Regions from separate parts of the Homo sapiens genome. Here region 2 is linked to region 1. Evidence: fine-mapped expression QTL. A gene starts in region 1. The other region holds a variant in brackets. All regions are shown on one strand. Distances are from middle to middle. Region 1 holds the start of CD320 (CD320 molecule). Region 2 overlaps KANK3 (KN motif and ankyrin repeat domains 3).

Region 1 (9,725 bases):
TAGCATCTACTTCAGAAAGCTGTTACGAGGGTTAGTCCTCATAATTAATATTTGTAAACTCTTGGAGCCTGGCACAGAGTCAGTGTCCTGCCTACCTCCTAATAACTCCACCAGTTAGATGGTGATGACCCCTCTTGCAGAAGAGGAAATCGAGGCTCACAGAAGCCAAGTGACTGGCCTGGGCCACACAGGCAGCAGTAAGCAGAAGCAGGATTTCAAACCAGTTTTCCTGGACTCCTGTTGGGGTCTGGGCTCTACAGCCAACTCACGGTGTGGGCAGTCCCTCAGCCTTCTTGAGCCTTGGTTTCTTCACATATAAAATAGGGATGCTAGACTTGCAGTGTGCTGAGATCTGGGAGGTGATGAGGTCAGGCAGGGCCTGCTCTGTACTTAAAACTCTGTGAGGTCTGGGCGCGGTGGCTCACGCCTGTAATCCCAGCACTTTGGGAGGCCGGGGAGGGCGGATCACCAGGTCAGGAGATCGAGACCATCGTGGCTAACATGTTGAAACCCTGTCTGTACTAAAAATACAAAAAATTAGCCAGGTGTGGTGGTGGGCGCCTGTAGTCCCAGCTATTCGGGAGGCTGAGGCAGGAGAGTGGTGTGAACCCGGGAGGCGGAGCTTGCAGCTCACTGAGATCGCGCCACTGCACTCCAGCCTGGGTGACAGAGTGAGACTCTGTCTCAAAAAAAAAAAAAAGAACTCTGTGAATAGGCCAGGCGCAGTGGTGTGTGCCTGTAATCCCAGTGACTCGGGAAGCTGAGGTGTGAGGATTGCTTGAGTTCTAGACTTGTTTGAGTAACACAGCGAGACCCCGTCTCTATTAGAAATTTTTTAGGCTGGGCATGGTAGCTCACGCCTGTAATCCCAGCACTTTGGGAGGCCGAGGTGAGAGGATCACTAGGGGTCAGGAGATCGACACCAGCCTGGCCAACAGGGCGAAACCCTGCCTCTACTGAAATACAAAAGTTAGGGGCGCTGTGGCTCTCGCCTGTAATCTCAGCACTTTGGGAGGCCGAGGCGGGTGGATCGCTTGAGCCCAGAAGTTCAAGACCAGCCTGAGCAGCATGGGGAAACCCCATCTCTACAAAAAATACAAAAATTAGCCGGGTGTGGTGGTGTGCACCCGTAGGCCCAGCTACTTGAAGGGCTGAGGCAGAAGGATCTCTTGAACCTGGGAGGTCGAGGAAGCTTCACTGAGCTGAGATTGCGCCACTGCACTCCAGCCTGGGTGACAAAGTGAGACCCTGTCTCATAAATAATAAACAAGAAAGAAAATACAAAAATTAGCCGGGAGTGATGGTGCACACCTGTAATCCCAGTTACTTGGGAGGCTGAGGCAAGAGAATCACTCAAGCCTGGGAGGCGGACGTTGCAGTGAACTGAGATTGTGCCACTGCACACCAGCCTGGGTGACAGAGCAAGAGTCTGTCTCAAAAAGAAGGAACTCAGTGGAGTGGTCCTTGTTGTCACCTTCTGATTCACTGGAGTCCAGCACCAGAGTGTGGCAAGATACCTTGTTCCCACACAGCCCCTTGCCATGCCCCCAGAGATGTGTGCATTTCCCAGGGAGGCCACTTCTGCCTTTTCCATTTCCTTGAGGCTCCTGGGAGGTCCTGTGCCTCCACCCCTGGGGCGCCTCCTCCATCACCCCACCCTCCTGCTTCCTTTCTTGCTTAGGCTGTGAAGTGTGTGAGCTCCACAGGCTCAGGTGGGTGGGGTGAGAGGGGAGGGTGCTCGTCCTGGACTTGCCGGCACAGGGTCTCCTGGGGGCTCCCTCTTGGCCAGCTCTGGGCCAGAGATGCGTTTTGCAGTTGCCATTTGCGCATGGATTCTCAGCCCCACCAGCCTGAGTCTTCCTGAGGGCGGTGCCCCATCTTCCTGGCTCTGCGCCCACACAGTAGCGCCTGCCATGCAGTTCTTGCCCAGTCTGAGGCAGGAATAGCTGGAGGCCATTGTCACCTGATCGCTTGGCCCTTTTGCCAGCATCCTGTTTTGAGGGGCAGCAGGAATGGGGGTGGGGGCCTTGTGTACGCTGGAGACCAAAAGTGGGAAGGGAGGAGCCCAGCTCTCCACAGTGGGTTCTGGGCCTGGGGGCCACAGCAGGGGGTTCATACAGGGCTCAGGGGAGAGAGGAGGCTTGCTAGCTCCCACCTGGCGTTGGCTGATCCTCTGAGGGGCTGCGTTGGAGGGGTTGGCATTCTGGAACACCCTGCTGTCTGTCCTGCAGGTCCAGAAAGTCCCTGTGGGTGTGTTTGTCCCGGGGCAGGTGTGGGCTCCCTCAGATCTTTCCACACTGTTCTTTGGAAACCCTCACTGAAGTCTTTCCCTCCTCCAGCTCTGCTGTAGCTGCCACTGAGAAGAAGGCGGTGACTCCAGCTCCTCCCATAAAGAGGTGGGAGCTGTCCTCGGACCAGCCTTACCTGTGACACTGCACCCTCACGGCCACCCGACTACTTTGCCTCCTTGGATTTCCTCCAGGGAGAATGTGACCTAATTTATGACAAATACGTAGAGCTCAGGTATCACTTCTAGTTTTACTTTAAAAAATAAAAAAATAGAGACAGAGTCTCACCATGTTTCCCAGGCTGATCTTGAACTCCTGGCCTCAAGCGATCCTCCTGCCTTGACCTCCCAAAGTGCTGGGATTACAGGCATGAGCCACCACACCTGGCCTGATTTTATTTTTATTTTTTAGACCTTCCCACTGAGGCCTCTGCTTGACCTTGGTCACCCTGTAGCTCAACGGGGAAGGCAAAGGACAGTGAGGGCTGCTTACAGGGAAGGCAGACCTAGGGCAGATCAGGAAAGGCCTCCCTGAGCCAGAAACCATTATGCTGGGGCTGTGGGATGAGAATGAGTTAGCTCCAGAAGGAAGGCAGCTGGTTCCTGGGGAGGAGATAGAAATCTGGCTGCAGGAGCCAGAGTTTTCGCGCTTGTCACCCAGGCTGGAACGCAACGGCACGATCTCAGGTCACTGCAACCTCTGCCTCCTGGGCTCAAGCAATTCTGCCTCAGCCTCCCGAGTAGCTGGGACTACGGGTGTGCACCACCATACCCGCTAATTTTTTTTTTTTTTTGTAGAGATGGCCAGGCTGGTCTCAAATTCCTGACCTCAGGTGATCCGCCCGCCTTGGCCTCCCAAAGTGTTGGGATTACAGGTGTGAGCCACCACGCCTGGCCCCTGATTTTAAGCAATACCCAGCTTACTTGGATTTTGGGGTGAAGTCAGTGCTGAGTCTCCCAACTCTGTTGGCACTCCAGGGGTGGGACAGACACTGTCCCTGGGTGCAGAGGCCCTGGAGACAGCACTGCCCTTTCCCCCAAAGGCCAGGCTCTGACCTTGAGAGTGGTGGGAGTGGGTGATCCTTCTGGGAGGTTGGACTCCCAGGACCGCTGGCTGTTGGGGAGCATTGATTGTGAAGACCAGTCAGGTGGGGTAAGGGGTGTATGTGCGGACACTCAGTAGGCCAGCCACAGACTTCTCACTTCTTTTTTTTTTTTGAGACAGAGTTTCGCTCTTGTTGCCCAGGCTAGAGTACAATGGCGCGATCACGGCTCACTATAACCTCTGCCTCCTGGGTTCAAGTGATTCTCTTGCCTCAGCCTCCCGAGTAGCTGGGATTACAGGCGCCTGCCACAAGCCCAGCTAATTTTTGTATTTTTAGTAGAGACGGGGTTTCGCCATGTTGGCCAGGCTGGTCTCAAACTCCTGACCTCAAGTGATCCGCCCACCTCTGCCTCCCGAAGTGTTGGGATTACAGGCGTGAGCCACCGCGCCTGGCCTAACTTCCATCTCTTGAGGGCTCCCACAGCCACTTCTCACATGAACCTTCCTCAGCACCTTCCCACTGAGGCTCCTGCTTGACCATGGTCACCCTGCAGCTCAACGGGGAAGGCAGAGGACAGTAAGGGCTGCTCACAGGGAAGGCAAACCTAGGGCAGATCAGGAAAGGCCTCCCTGAGCCAGATCCCATTATGCTGGGGCTGTGGGATAAGAATGAATTCGCCCCAGAAGGAAGGCAGCTGGTTCCTGGGGAGGAGACAGAAATCTGCAAAGGGAGGGTGTCCAAGTCTGGCTGCAGGAGCCACCCAGTGACCCTACGCAGGGGAGTGTCATGGCTTCCCCAGGGCACAGCCCCAGACCCTTCAGCAGCTAAAAAAGATCAGCTGTGGACCAAGAGGGTGCTGAGACCGCCCTGCCCTCTGGAAGGGGAAAGGCCACGGCTACAGGCAGCAGGTACCAGTGTCCCAGAGTGGGTCCTACAAAGGCTAACACCTTCCTGGAGAAGGTGGGATTCTGCTTGGGGCAAAAGGATGAATCAGATTCAGAAAGGTCAGGAGGGAAGGAAAGACTAGGCAGGGTGTGCAGAGGCCACAAGGAGGGCAAGACCCTAGGCAAGGCATGCCGCTGACGGCATCTGAACCAAGTTTTATGACCACAACTTTTTTTTTTTTTTGAGACAGAGTCTCACTCTGTCACCCAGGCTGGAGTTCAATGATGTGGTCTCGGCGCACTGCAACCTCCGCCTCCCGGGTTCAAGCGATTCTCCCATCTCAGCCTCCCTAGTAGCTGGGACTACAGGAGCATGTTACCACACCCGGCTAATTTTTGTATTTTTGGTAGAGACGGGAGTTTTACTATGTTGGCCAGGCTGGTTTAGAACTCCTGACCTCGTGATCCGCCTGCCTCGGCCTCCCAAAGTGCTGGGGTTAACAGGCGTGAGCCAGCGCGCCGGCCAACTTTTCTAACAAATGGGGTCTCACTGTCACCCACGCTGGAGTGCAGCCCCAAGTGATTCTCCCACCTCAGCCTCCTGAGTAGCTGGGACTACAAATTAGAGCCACCATGCCCAGCTAATTTTCTTTTTTCTTGAGGCGGGCGGGGACTTGCTGTGTTGCCCAGGCTGATCTCGAACTCCTGGGCTCAAGCGATCTGCCCGCCTCTGCTTCCCAAAATGCTGGGATCACACACGTGACCCACCGCGCCCGGCCTTTATTATTAAATTTAATTAATTAATTGATTTCCTTTCCTTTTTCCCCCCCAAGCAACCCGACTCCGAGAATGGACGTTTCATTTATTCATTTACTCACCAAATGTTTACTAAGAGCCTACTATGAGTCAAGCACTATGTGTCAGATCCTGAGAATAAAGCAGTGAGCAACAGAAGATCCCTGCCCTCCAGTAGCTAGCATTCTATGGGGACTCGGACAACAAACCAGAATAAGTAAATAAAATAAATTACCTGTCGGCGCCACAAAAGCAGTGGGATGAGGGAGGAAATGCGGAGTGCCTGAGGGGCGTGGCTGCCATATTAAAGAAGATCACGAGGCAGTAACATTTGCAGCAGTCCTCATTTGGAACGGGAAATAATGCAAATGAACACCAACAAATTCCTTCCCATCCCCAGAAGTTTCTAACTTCAAGCGGGCTCCATACCTTTCAACTGATCTGGTCACTGGGGAAAGTGGGGACGGGCCTCTAATTCTCTTTTCCCTGCTATTCTGACATTTACGGTACGCGTAGCCGCGGGCGCCGCAGAACTCAGGGGCTTGGGCCCCGCCCCAACCCCGCGCGTGCGCGTGCGCAGGGATAAGAGAGCGGTCTGGACAGCGCGTGGCCGGCGCCGCTGTGGGGACAGCATGAGCGGCGGTTGGATGGCGCAGGTTGGAGCGTGGCGAACAGGGGCTCTGGGCCTGGCGCTGCTGCTGCTGCTCGGCCTCGGACTAGGCCTGGAGGCCGCCGCGAGCCCGCTTTCCACCCCGACCTCTGCCCAGGCCGCAGGTGAGTGACGCCCCGCAGCGCGGGCTCCCACCCCTCGCGAGGCTTCGCCCCGCCGCCGCGCACCGACAACGCCTAGTCACTGGCTGCACCGCACGTCAGTTCATGACACTCCCCCAGCACGTGGACTTGGACTTCATCGCTTGTGGGAAGGCGCGCACTGGTGCTAGGAAGACCCCATGCTGGGGGAGGGGAGGAGGGTGTCTCCACCTGCCTTTAACGGTTTTGCTCCGGCCCTGCACACCGTCTCCACACCTGCTGTGCCCTGTCGTCCCCCATTGTCACCTCCAAGCCGCCCTTCATACCAGCGTGGTCAGGAAAGCTCTTAGCAGGCTCAGATTGTCCGACCGCTAATCACGCAGGACGGGTCACCTGGTGCCTCTCGCACCTTTGCCTTCCAAACCCTCGCGCCCAGGCCTTGTGACCGTTCCGCAACCGTCCCTGCCCTCCCAGTCTCTCCTCCTTTGTCCTCCATCCTTAGAGAACGCGAGGTCTCTCCCCCCCATGCTACTGCAGGCTCTCGCAGAGACTGGGGTCACAAGTTGAATATACCCCCGTGGACGTGTTCGCCCTGGCCTAAGAGGTATTGGTGGCCAGTGGGGACGGGCTCCCTCTCTGATACCCCTAGAGGCAGCTGGAGGGTTGGAGTGGCCTCCCTGTGCACTCAGGCACTCCCAACTTGCAGCCCTGGGCTCAGGCTCACACACTTTCCCAGCTCCTTTGTGCATTCCGCACTTCTAGGTCCCTGGACTCATCCCAAAGTCCCTGACATTCACGTTAAATGTTCCTGGGTTTTTTTTTGTTTGTTTTTTTTTAAGGAGGCAGCGTTCACGTTAACCAAGTACAAAAGTTTTTGTTTTTTTTTTTTTGAGTCTCCCTCTGTCGCCCTGGCTGGAGTGCAGTGCAATGTTGGCTCACTGCACCCTCCGCCTCCCGGGTTTAAGCAATTCTCATGCCTCAGCCTCCCGAGTAGCTTGGGACTACAGGCACCGTCACCATGCCCGGCTAATTTTTGTATTTTTAGTAGAGATGGGGTTTCACCATGTTGGCCAGACTGGTCTCGAACTCCTGACCTCAAGTGTTCTGTCCGCCTCAGCCTCCCAAAGTGCTGGGATTACAGGACAAAACTCTATACACAGTCTCTTTTTTCTCAGGATGTTGAGGTAGGGATTCCCAGCATACCCCGTTTACAGGTGAGGAAACTGAGGCCAGGAGAGAAAGTCACTGGTCACTGTAACTCCTGTCAGGCTTACACCCTATGAGGCGGGGACTGCTGTGCTCTACTGTCCACTTTGCAGAGGGATACACACTCCCGCAGTCCAGCGAAGGGAGGTCAGAGGTGTCAGGGCTGTGGAAGTCTGCGCCTGGGTGGAGAGCCACACCTGGAGGCTGCCAGATCTCCCGGGGGCGGGGAAGGAAGCAGGCACCGGTTTGTCCACAGCTCTTCTGGGATCCATAGAGCTCAGGGACCCTGTGGCAAGTAGGTGCAATTAGGCCTGAAGGCCGAGGAGGGGCTGGCAGTGGGGAGTGGGGGGTTGGAGGCTCATGGCTGGTGGGTAAAGGTGGAAGAGGTTAAAGGCCTTGGCAGAGTGAAGCTAAGCCAGGGTGGCGGATTTGCCACCTCCCCTGGCCGCACCCAGGAGGAAGCCGTAAAGGCCACTCCCTTCCTCTGTCCCTTGGCCCAGGTTGCGGGCCCCTCCGTGCCCCTCCAGGTCGGCAAGCAGCTGAGCTTCCCTGCTCAGAATCTAGGACAGCCGGGATCTTCTCTGGACCCAGCTTGGACCCTTATGTGACCTGTGTCCACTTATAATCAGGCACTGCCCTGGGTTTAGGCGGCCAGGTCACAGCCCTGACCTCCACAGAATGTCCAGTCTGTGGGTGGACAGGCATGACCAGGGCTTTAAGGACAGTTGTTAGACATGGGAGGCAGTGCTTCCTAGGTCTCCAAGAGGGACATGAGAACCCTCCCAGGAAATCAGCTGAGATCTGAAAATTGAGGGGAAAACACAGGGTGTAGGGAGGAGAGAGGGAAAGGCAAGTCTCTGGTGTCCTAATGGACCTTGGGGCCTGGGGCCTGGGGCTCTGGTGAGGAGCTGACACATTTAGGATGGGGAGAGTGATAGGTCTGGGAGGAATTCAGGAGGCGGGGCAACAGGACTTGGTGACTGAGCAGATTTTCTACCCAGTGCCTCAGTTTCCCACCCACTGCCTCAGTTTCCCTTTTGCTACGCAGAGGAGATAGACCCTCCCTGCTGACCTGAGCCCGGGAGCCTGACCCAGGGCATGTGGAAAAATGGCCCGTCCCTCAGTCTCTTTAACCACTGAGTTTGGAGGTCTCCCTGGCAGATCATCTCGCTATGAGGAGCCTGGTGAAGACTCTGGGATCAGCGAGACCTGAGTTCGAAGCCCAACTCCGCTACCAGCTCTTTTTTTTTTCTTTTTTGTGGTGACGGAGTCTCGTTCTGTCGCCCAGGCTGGAGTGCAGCAGTATGATTTCGGTTCATTGCAACCTCCATCTCCCAGGTTTAAGCGATTCTCATGCTTCAGCCTCCCGAGTAGCTGGCATTACAGGCGTGCACTACCACGCCCGGCTAATTTTTGTATTTTTAACAGAGACGGGGTTTCCATGTAGGCCAGGCTGGTCTCGAACTCGTGACCTCAAGTGATCCACCTGCCTCGGCCTGCCAAAGTGCTGAGATTACAGGCGTGAGCCACTGCACCCAGCCTCTGCCACCAGCTGTATGGCCTCCTCTTGGTTCCTTTCTCTGTAACCTGGGGAGTGCAGTAGCACCTGCCCAGTGGGGCTCTTGAGCCCAGGAACTGCTACACTCTGAACCCCACTCGTACTAGGGGCTCAGTAACAAGCAGCCGCCAGTGTGGTTCCTATATCCCGGGACTTCGCCTGTCTCCTGCGGATCACAGCCAGTGACTACTGTGCTCTTGGAGAAAGGTCCAGCCTCCAGCTTCCCAGGCTTCATTTGCATCCATCTCGCAGGCCCCAGCTCAGGCTCGTGCCCACCCACCAAGTTCCAGTGCCGCACCAGTGGCTTATGCGTGCCCCTCACCTGGCGCTGCGACAGGGACTTGGACTGCAGCGATGGCAGCGATGAGGAGGAGTGCAGTGAGTGGCCACGCCCCTTGGCGGGGCTTACAGGGGGCGGGGCCTGAGGGTGGTTTGTCAGGGGCCAGGCACGCGGAGGTGGAGCTTGTGGGAAAGGCAGGGCCGCAGGGATGGGTGCGACTTGGGTCTGTGGGTCATAAGAAGCGGGGTCTAAGATGGGCTTGGGCTGGGCGCAGTGGCTCACGCCTGCAATCCCAGCACTTTGGGAGGCTAGGGTGGGAGGATCGATCACTTGATCCTGGGAGGTTGCCGCTGCAGTGAGCTAGGATTGTGCCAGTGCACTCCAGCCTGGGCAACAGAGTAAGACTGTCTCAGGAAAAAAAAAGAAAAAGAAAAAAAAAAGAAAAATGAAAGAAAGGAAAGAAAGGAAGGAAAGAGAGAGGGAGGGAGCCAGGTACGGTGGCTCACACATGTAATCCCAGCACTTTGGGAGGCCAAGGCAGGCGGATCACTTGAGGTCAGGCGTTCGAGACCAGCCTGGCCAACACAGTGAAACCCCATCTCTACTAAAAATACAAAAGTTAGCTGGATGTGGCGGCAGGCCCCTGTAATCCCAGCTAGTCAGGAGGCTAAGGCAGGAGAATCACTTGACCCTGGGAGGCAGAGGTTTCAGTGAGTCGAGATTGCGCCACTGCACTGCAGCCTGGGCAGCAAAGGGAGACCCCGTCTCAAAAGAAAAAATAAAGAAAGAAACAAACAAACAAATAGAATAAAGTGGGCTTGTAGGAAGGTAGAGCTAGTGGGGTCTCAGGGGAAGAGCTTGCAGGGAGGCCTGTCCTTAGAAAGTGGAGTTAACAGTTGCAGGGGGCGGAGCCTTAGGA
Region 2 (9,572 bases), 27 kb before region 1:
CAGCTGTCTTCTGAGATCCCAGGGCCTGGGATTTGGGTGTGACCAGGTCACCGGAGGAGGACGCTGACCCCATTGCGTCATACGGCCAGCTGTGTGAGAAGTAGACCCAGACCCCCCAACCCTTGATCTGGACTTTTTCCACAACCCAGTTCTTCCCTGGCAATTTCCTGAAAACAAGTGATGAACGGCATTGGCTGTCCTCTGCGATGACCCGCTGGCCTGTTGATCCACCCCTTGCAGCTGGTGTGAAGGGACGGGAAACAGCTGCTTGGGGACTGGAAGAGGCCCCCTGCCTGGCCTTGGAGTGGGAAGGGAGAGGTCAGGGACCTCGGCCAGACAGAAGTGGGAAATGGAGTTACGGTTTCCCCAGCGGTGGAGTAGGGTAATGAGTCAGGAGGGCTGGTGGGTGCTCAGTGCTTCATAGCATCAGGCACACAGGTGGTCCCAGGGATTCGAGAAGCCAGAAGGGGTGGCTGGGAGTGTTGCCATGTGGTTAGCACAGACGGGCCGTGGCCCAGGGAGAGGATGAAGTGGGTTTGGCAGATGCCTGTCAGTGGAGGACTGGACAGGTAAAGGGCAGTCAGAAGCTGTGGCAGGGACCTGCTGACAAGGGTTCCGCAGATGGGCAGAGCCCAATCTGAGGGTGCTTCCCACAGGCAACTGATTTAATTGTTCTGTGCCTCAGTTTCTCCATCTGTAAAATATGAATAATAATACTACTTTGCAGTATGCAAAGTGTTGTATGGGGGCTGTGTGTGTGTGTGTGTGTGTGTGTGTGTATATATATATATATATGGTTTTTTTTTTTTGAGACGGAGTCTGGCTCTGTCCCCCAGGCTGGAGTGCAGTGGCATGATCTCAGCTCACTGCAACCTCTGCCTCCCAGGTTCAAGCGATTCTCCTGCCTCAGCCTCCTGAGTAGCTGGGACTACAGGCATGCACCATTGTGTCCAGCTATGGCGATGACATTTAATCAGGAAGGGCACACCGTAGGCACTTTCCCCTCCCTGAAGGTTTTCCATGTGGGCTTTCCAAAGCCCATCTTTCCCACTCCATGTTCCTGTGCTTTTCTTTTCTTTTCTTTTCTTTTTTTTTTTTTTTTTTTTTGAGACAAGGTCTTGCTCTGTCAACCAGGCTGGAATGCAGTGGCATGATCATAACTCACTGCAGCCTGCATCTCCTGGACTCAAGAGATACTCCTGCCTCAGCTTCTTGAGTAGCTGGGACTACAGGTGCATGCCAACACATCCAGCTAATTTTTGTGTTTTTTGTAGAGATGGGGTTTCGCTATTTTATTTATTTATTTAGAGACAGAGCTTCGCTCTTGTTGCCCAGGCTGGAGAGCAATGGCTTGTGAGCCACTGTGCTTGGTGGTTTCACTATTTAAAAACAAACAAACAAAAGAGATAGTGGCCAGGCACCTTGGCTCATGCCTGTAATCCCAGCACTTTGGGATGCCGAGGTGGGTGGATCACCTGAGGTCAGGAGTTCGAGACCAGCCTGGCCAACATGATGAAACCCTATCTCTACTAAAAATACAAAAAATTAGCCAGGTATAGTAGCAGTGGCTGTAATCCCAGCTACTCAGGAGGCTGAGGCAGGAGAATCACTTGAACCCAGGAGGCAGAGGTTGCAGTGAGCCAAGATTGTGCCACTGCACTCTAGCCTGGGCAACAAGAGGGAAATTCTGTCTCAAAAAAAAAAAAAAACAAAAAGAGATAGGGTCTCGCTATGTTGCGCAGGTGGGTCTTGACTCCTAGGCTCAAGCGATCCTTCTGCTTTGGCTTCCCAGAGTGCTGAGATTTCACCCTGTGCTTTTTGAACCAAAGTTCTGGATTCAATATTTGTCCTTGTTAAATATCACATTATTATATGTGGCCCAATCTTCCTCACTTTCTTACAGCCTCCATCATGTCATCCAAACAGTCACTTTCCCAGGCAGCCCCATGAATAGTCACAGCTCTGACAACCCAGGTGTTTTGTGTTTGCATTACAAACTCTTACAAGCCAAGGATCAAGCCTGTGACACTCCGCTAGCGACATTCCAGGGAGACAAGTATCCGTTGATTTGTTGATTTGGATCTTTGGTGCATCCAGCCCGCAATTCCCCATCATTCCTGCAAGAGTTTCACAACTGACCTTGGTAAAAATTTGGATGCACAATTACATCCTTTTTTTTTTTTTTTTTTTTTTTTTTGAGACGGAATCTCGCTCTGTTGCCAGGCTGAAGTGCAGTGGCGCCACCTCAGCTCACTGCAAGCTCCGCCTCCCGGGTTCACGCCATTCTCCTGCCTCAGCCTCCCGAGTAGCTGGGACTACAGGCGCCTGCCACCACGCCCGGCTACTTTTTTATATTTTTAGTAGAGATGGGGTTTCACCGTGTTAACCAGGATGGTCTCGATCTCCTGACCTCATGATCCGCCCTCCTCGGCCTCCCAAAGTGCTGGGATTACAGGCGTGAGCCACCGCGCCCAGCCTAGATGAGTTTTTAATGATCCTGTGAAGGGCTTCCAACTCTGGTCTTTCTTTCCTAAAGGCTCATAGTCCACTACATAGAGCGTCCATTTCTGATTTTCCCCAGAGATTATCAGAAAACCCAGCAGGTCTGGAATGCCTCCCCAACTCCCAGCTACCCTTGTTTTCTTGGTCACCTTCTTCTTTTTGCTTGATGTCTTTCCTGCTTCCTCCTGCCCAGCAGGCTGACATCTGACACCTGGGGATCATTCATTCCATCCAAAGTTTCAAGGTCGGCTAGGCACGGTGGCTCATGCCTATAATCCCAGTACTTTGGGAGGTCGAGGCAGGCGGATAACTTGAGGTCAGGAGTTCGAGACCAGCCTGGCCAACATGGTGAAACCTCATCTCTACCAAAAATACAAAAATTAGCCAGGCGTGGTGGTGGGCACCTGTAATCCCAGCCACTTGGGAGGCTGAGGCAGGAGATTCACTTGAACCCGGGAGGGGGAGGCTGCAATGAGCCGAGATTGTGGCATTGCACTCCAGCCTGGGTGACAGAGCGAGACTCTGTCCCAAAAAAAAAAAAAAAAAAAAAGTTTCAAGGTTTCTTTAGGGAAGAGGAAGGAGAGGCCATGTGTGGAGGGAGGTGGCTGGGTGGAGGAGAGCTCTTGGGTCCTGTTTGCTTAGACTCAAAGGCAGGCCCCAGAGGCTCCAGCCAGAGGGACAGCGCCCAGCCCCACCTTCACCCCTTTTGCAGGGTGCCTCTGACAGCTGCTGCAGGAAACATGGCCAAGTTTGCCCTGAATCAGAACCTGCCCGGTGAGTGTGCAAAAAGAGAGATGTGTGTGTGTGTGCGCATGCACAGAGAAACGCTTGATGCCCTTGTGTGTGGACGCAGCCTACAGCCCTAGAGTGCAGTCCTCTCCAATGTCATGAGCCTGCTTTAAACCACCTATGGCATCAATCATGGCCGGGTGCGGTGGCTCATGCCTGTAATCCCAGCACTTTGGGAGGCCACGGTGGGCGGATCACTTGAGATCAGGAGTTTGAGACCAGCCTGGGCAACATGGTGAAACCCTGTCTCTACTAAAAATACAAAAATTAGCCAGGCACGGCTCGGTGTGGTGACTCATGCCTGTAATCCCAGCACTTTGGGAGGCCGAGGCGGGCAGATCACAAGGTCAGGAGGTCAAGACCATCCTGGCTAACACGGTGAAATCCCATCTCTACTAAAAATACAAAAAATTAGCCGGGCATGGTGGTGCCCCTGTAGTCCCAGCTACTCGGGAGGCTGAGGCAGGAGAATGGCTTGAACCCGGGAGGCGGAGCTTGCAGTGAGCAGAGATTGTGCCACTGCACTCCAGCCTGGGCGACAGAGCGAGACTGCGTCTCAAAAAAAAAAAAAAAAAAAAAATTAGCCAGGCATGGTGGCGCGTGCCTGTAGTCCCAGCTACTCAGGAGGCTGAGGCAGGAGAATTGCTGGAACCTGGGAGGCAGAGGCTGCAATGAGCCAAGATCGCACTACAGCACTCCAGTCTGGGCAACAGAGCAAGACTCCGTCTCAAAAAAAAGAAAAAAACAAAACAAAAAACACCCCACCTATGGCACTAATCGCAAGTGGACTATACCCCCTGCCACCCCAGGTAGCCCTCAAACCAGGGAAGTGTGGCCCTTGTGCGTCCATTCCTCTTCCCCCTGCCTTCTTTACTCTGCTCGGGACACCCTGGTCTCCATCTCGCTGTGACTCCAGCTGACCCTCCTCCCTCCTACCCCAGGGTATTTCCATGGGCTGTTTTCTTCTAGAAACCTTTTCCCAGCTGCTTCCTCCTCATCGTGCAGGGCTTCCCCTCGCCAACCTTTTTTTTTTTTTTTTTGAGACAGGGTCTCACTCTGTCACCCAGTCTGGAGTGCAGTGGTGCAATCTCGGCTCACTGCAACCTCTGCCTCCCAGGCTCAAGTGATCCTCCCACCTCAGCCTCCTGAGTAGCTCACCATTATGCACAGCTATGTATATATATGTATATGTGTATATATATATTTTTGGAGATGGGGTCTCACTTTGTTGCCCAGGTTTGTCTCGAACTCCTAAGCTCTAGCGATCCACCCGCCTCGGCCTCCCAAAGTGTTGAGATAGAGGCGTGAGCCACTGCGCCCGGCCAGGGCTACTTTTTTTTTTTTTTGAGAGGTTCTCTTCTGTCGCCCAGGCTGGAGTGCATTGGTGCGATCTCGGCTCACCTCAAACTCCGCCTACCAGGATCAAGTGATTCTCCTGCCTCAGCTTCCGGAGTAGCTGGGATTACAGGCGCGCGCCACTACCGCCCAGCTAATTTTCGTATTTTTAGCAGATACTGGGTTTCACCATGTTGGCCAGGCTGGTCTGGAACTCCTGACCTCAGGTGATCCGCCTGTGCCGGCCTCCCAAAATGCTGCGACTACAGGCGCGAACCACACGCCGGGCCAGGGCTCCACTCCACAGGAAAGTCCCCTCACAGGAAAGCTTCCCTGGCAACCAAACGCTAAATCGGGCCTCCTCCGTTTATTCC[CTG/G]TTATTATTACCATTGCCGTAGGCATCGTTTGGAAGGATGCTTATCTGCTTTCTACAGGAGGACAGGGATGTTTGTCTTGCTCACTGCTGTGTCCCCCGGGCCTAGAAACTTGCTTAGCACAGAGTAGGTGCTCATTAAACAAGCGATTGAGTTAATACTTGGGTACAGATAGGTGTGAAGCGTGGGCATGGGTGGGGGACACGCTCGGTTTGTTTAGTATCTCCCGGGTTTCCCCGTTCTGATGCGCCCTCCCCGTGCCCCCGTCGTGCCTCCAGACCTGGGCGGCCCCCGCCTGTGCCCGGTCCCCGCCGCCGGGGGCGCACGCAGCCCGAGCTCGCCCTACTCGGTGGAGACGCCCTACGGCTTCCACCTGGACCTGGACTTCCTCAAGTACATAGAGGAGCTGGAGCGTGGCCCCGCTGCCCGCCGCGCCCCGGGACCCCCGACCTCGCGCCGTCCCCGCGCGCCCCGGCCCGGCCTCGCGGGCGCACGTAGCCCAGGCGCCTGGACATCCAGCGAGTCCCTGGCCAGTGACGACGGTGGAGCACCGGGCATACTCTCCCAGGGCGCGCCCTCGGGGCTCCTGATGCAGCCGCTGTCGCCGCGCGCGCCCGTGCGCAACCCGCGCGTCGAGCACACGCTCCGGGAGACCAGCCGGCGGCTGGAGCTGGCGCAGACACACGAGCGCGCGCCCAGCCCCGGCCGCGGGGTCCCGCGCAGCCCACGCGGGTCCGGCCGCAGCAGCCCCGCCCCTAACCTTGCCCCTGCTTCGCCCGGCCCTGCCCAACTGCAGCTGGTGCGCGAGCAGATGGCCGCGGCGCTGCGGCGCCTGCGCGAGCTCGAGGACCAGGCGCGAACGCTGCCCGAGCTGCAGGAGCAGGTGCGCGCGCTGCGCGCCGAGAAGGCGCGGCTGCTGGCCGGGCGCGCGCAGCCCGAGCCGGACGGGGAGGCTGAGACGCGCCCGGACAAGCTCGCCCAGCTGCGGCGGCTCACCGAGCGCCTGGCCACCTCCGAGCGCGGCGGCCGTGCCAGGGCCAGCCCCCGGGCTGACAGCCCAGACGGCCTGGCTGCAGGGCGCAGCGAGGGCGCGCTCCAGGTCCTCGACGGGGAGGTCGGGAGTCTCGATGGGACGCCCCAGACCCGGGAGGTGGCCGCCGAGGCCGTGCCCGAGACCCGAGAAGCGGGTGCCCAGGCCGTGCCGGAGACCCGGGAGGCCGGCGTGGAGGCTGCCCCCGAGACCGTGGAGGCGGACGCGTGGGTGACCGAGGCGCTGCTGGGGCTGCCTGCGGCCGCCGAGCGCGAGCTAGAGCTGCTGCGCGCCAGTCTGGAGCACCAGCGCGGGGTGAGTGAGCTTCTGCGGGGCCGGTTGCGGGAGCTGGAGGAAGCCCGCGAGGCTGCGGAGGAGGCAGCGGCGGGGGCCCGGGCCCAGCTACGCGAGGCCACCACCCAGACCCCGTGGAGCTGTGCCGAAAAGGCCGCGCAGACCGAGTCCCCGGCAGAGGCGCCCTCCTTGACTCAGGAGAGCTCGCCCGGATCCATGGACGGAGACAGGGCCGTGGCGCCCGCGGGTGAGTCCCGACCCCGTCGCTGGGCCCTGGCTTACTCGGCGCCGGACTCGAACTCAGTGCCCTCATCTCATCCCCGCCAGGCATCCTCAAATCCATCATGAAGAAGAGAGACGGCACACCTGGTGCCCAACCCAGCTCCGGACCCAAGAGCCTGCAGTTTGTTGGGGTCCTCAACGGAGAGTGAGCGCCTTTCCCCTCCTGTGGCAGCTTCTGCCGGGACATAGACTGGGGTTGGAACCCCAGCTCTGCCCCTCTACTGGCAGCGTGGTCTGGGCAATCCTCAGTTTCCTCATCGTTAAATGGGAACGGCCACACCCACATCGCAGGACTCCAGAACGAGCCCACAGGGGAGGTTTAGCAGACACCTCCCACCCTGCCCCCAGGTACGAGAGCTCCTCCAGCGAGGACGCCAGCGACAGCGATGGCGACAGCGAGAACGGTGGCGCCGAGCCCCCGGGTAGCTCCTCGGGCTCCGGGGATGACAGCGGCGGGGGATCCGACTCGGGCACCCCTGGCCCTCCCAGCGGCGGGGACATCCGGGACCCTGAGCCCGAGGCGGAGGCAGAGCCTCAGCAGGTGGCACAGGGGAGGTGAGCGGCGCTCGCTAGTTGTTTGGAGAGGAGGCGGCTGCCCTCCTCCTGGTCGGCGCTGTCCCCGATCCATCCTGAGTCTCTCCTGGCCTCCTCTGCAGGTGCGAGCTGAGCCCGCGTCTGAGGGAGGCGTGCGTAGCGCTGCAGCGGCAGCTGAGCCGGCCCCGCGGAGTAGCCAGCGACGGCGTGAGTGCCCCGGGAGCGCAGCACCAGGGAGTGGCGTGGGAGCCTCCAAGGACCTCTGACGCCCACTTAGGGGAGCACACCGGGTTCCATCCCTTCCCGCCAGGCACCTCGCCTGACCCCAGGCTCTCCGAAGGGATCTCCTTCCCAGGACAGCGCCGATCTTTCCTTGGTTTCCCCAAAAAGGCCCGGCCCCAGCCCCACTCCCGGACTCCCCAAGGGCAAGCGTTCATTGCCTTTCCCCGTTCCATGTTCTCCCGCAAATTCTTCCCTGGAAGGAAAGGACCCCCTTCCCCCGTGTTTGCCCTCCGATAGGGGTGTGGCCCCAGCCCTCCATCTGGGTTCGCATGGCTCCCCACCTGGACGAGGAGTGACCTTCCTTACTTGCCTGGAAACGCCAAATGGGTCTCTTCCCAGTCCCGCCCCTCCCCAGCTCCCCCACCACGGCGCCGCCGTGGACCATCGCCGATGTTATCTTGGCCCCTGTCCCTTGCAGGGCGCAGTGCGCCTCGTGGCCCAGGAGTGGTTTCGAGTGTCCAGCCAGCGGCGCTCTCAGGCGGAGCCCGTGGCCAGGATGCTGGAAGGGGTGAGGCGCCTGGGACCCGAACTGCTGGCGCACGTGGTGAACCTGGCGGATGGCAACGGGAACACGGCCCTGCACTACAGTGTGTCCCACGGGAACCTGGCCATCGCAAGCCTGCTCCTGGATACGGGTCAGAGCCAAGGGAGGGTGGGTGGGACACCAGGAAATGGGTGGGGGGAGAGGGCAGGGGCTGACCTAGGCTCAAAGACTCTGGAGAGGAAAGCAGAGAATGGCTGTCCAGCACAGGGCACCACTCCTCCTTGAGTTTATTTTATTTTATTTTAATTTTATTATTTTATTTTATTTTATTTTATTTTATTTTATTTTTGAGACGGAGTTTCACACTGTCACCAGGCAGGAGTGCAGTGGCGCGATCTCGGCTCACTGCAACCTCCGCCTCCCAGGTTCAAGCGATTCTCCTGCCTCAGCCTCCCGAGTAGCTGGGACTACAGATGTGCGCCACCATGCCCAGCTAATTTTTGTATTTTTAGTGGAGACGGGGTTTCACCATGTTGGCCAGGATGGTCTTGATCTCCTGACCTCGTGATCTGCCTGCCCCGGCCTCCCAAAGTGCTGGGATTACAGGCCTGAGCCACTGCGCCCAGCCAACCTCCTTGGGTTTTAAACCTCTTCCTGTCTGGGTTCCCAAAGGCCTTCTGCCCTCTGAGCCAGGCATGGTGGCTCATGCCTTTAACCCCAGCACTTTGGGAGGCCGAGGTGGGCAGATCACTTGAGGTCAGGAGTTCGAGACCGGCCTGGCCAACATGGCAAAACCCCATCTCTACTAAAAATACAAAAATTAGCTGGGTGTGGTGGTACATGCCTGTAATTCCAGCTACTCAGGAGGCTGAGGCACGAGAATTGCTTGAACCTGGGAGGCAGAGGTTGCAGTGAGCTGAGATCGTGCTACTGCACTCCAGCCTGGGCGACAGAGTGAGGCTCAGTCTCAGAAACAAAAACAAAACAAAACAAAAAAGCAGAAACTAGCTGGGCGTGGTGGTGGGAACCTGTAATCCCAGCTATTCGGGAGGCTGAGGTGCGAGGATTACTTGAACCCAGGAGGCAGAGGTTGCAGTAAGCCAAGAGTGAGCACCACTGCACTCCAGCCTGGGCCACAATGCAAGACTCCATCTCAAAAAAAAAAAAAAAAAAAAAAAAAAAAAGAGGCCTTTTGGCCCCACCATACCCCTAGTTCTGCCCTGAGGCTCCTCCTACTTTGCAGCTGGAGGGAATACACAGTTCTGGACTTAGGTAAACCTCAGTTTAGGGGCATTATTTAATCTTGCTTGTGAAATGGGGTTGGCAAGGCCTCCCTCCCTGGGTACCTATGATAATACAGGTAGTACGAGATCAGTAAATGGCCAGCATGTGCTCTGTCCCTGAATCTCCAGCTGGAGCACTCACCGAGTTCCTGAGCCCCAGTGTCCAGCCTGGAGGGGAGGTACTCACCAGGCAGGGCTCTGACTCCTCCTGGGATGGGGCACTGTGCCCCACCCACCTCCAGCTGCTTGCCCTGATAAACTGGGCACAAAGGGTCTGGTGGGTGGTAAACAAATCGCTGTCCACCAGGAGCCCCCTCCCTCCAGGTACCCTCCTGCAGGTTCAGAAACCTCTGAGTCAGCCTTTGGGCACCTCTGGTACTAAC

The links. PIP is the estimated chance that this variant, and not a neighbour inherited with it, causes the effect. A credible set is the group of variants that fine-mapping cannot tell apart.
Region 2: its variant is the best candidate, but not a certain one, in a credible set for the expression of CD320 in whole blood (INTERVAL, PIP 0.71).

What each region holds. Positions count from the first base shown.
Region 1 is chr19:8,304,210-8,313,934 of GRCh38, reverse strand. CD320 (CD320 molecule) reads left to right here and starts at 5,577. Exons shown (of 5, transcript NM_016579.4): 1 at 5,577-5,786; 2 at 8,779-8,904. The coding sequence starts at 5,645. It overlaps NDUFA7 (NADH:ubiquinone oxidoreductase subunit A7), which reads left to right. Exons shown (of 4, transcript NM_005001.5): 4 at 2,340-2,651. The coding sequence ends at 2,430. RefSeq lists enhancers at 1,392-1,994, 4,749-5,278, 5,334-6,073, 5,958-6,087, 6,074-6,814 and 1 more and silencers at 5,475-5,813, 5,788-5,877.
Region 2 is chr19:8,331,499-8,341,070 of GRCh38, reverse strand. KANK3 (KN motif and ankyrin repeat domains 3) reads left to right here. Exons shown (of 11, transcript NM_198471.3): 2 at 3,215-3,276; 3 at 5,279-6,571; 4 at 6,652-6,751; 5 at 6,955-7,161; 6 at 7,263-7,347; 7 at 7,841-8,057. The coding sequence starts at 3,243. Among named protein-coding and RNA genes, the nearest start is that of KANK3, 7.0 kb to the left of the region's middle. RefSeq lists an enhancer at 301-801 and silencers at 5,174-5,433, 5,534-5,583, 5,614-5,803, 5,964-6,063. The variant CTG/G (reference allele first, on the strand shown) is at 5,001.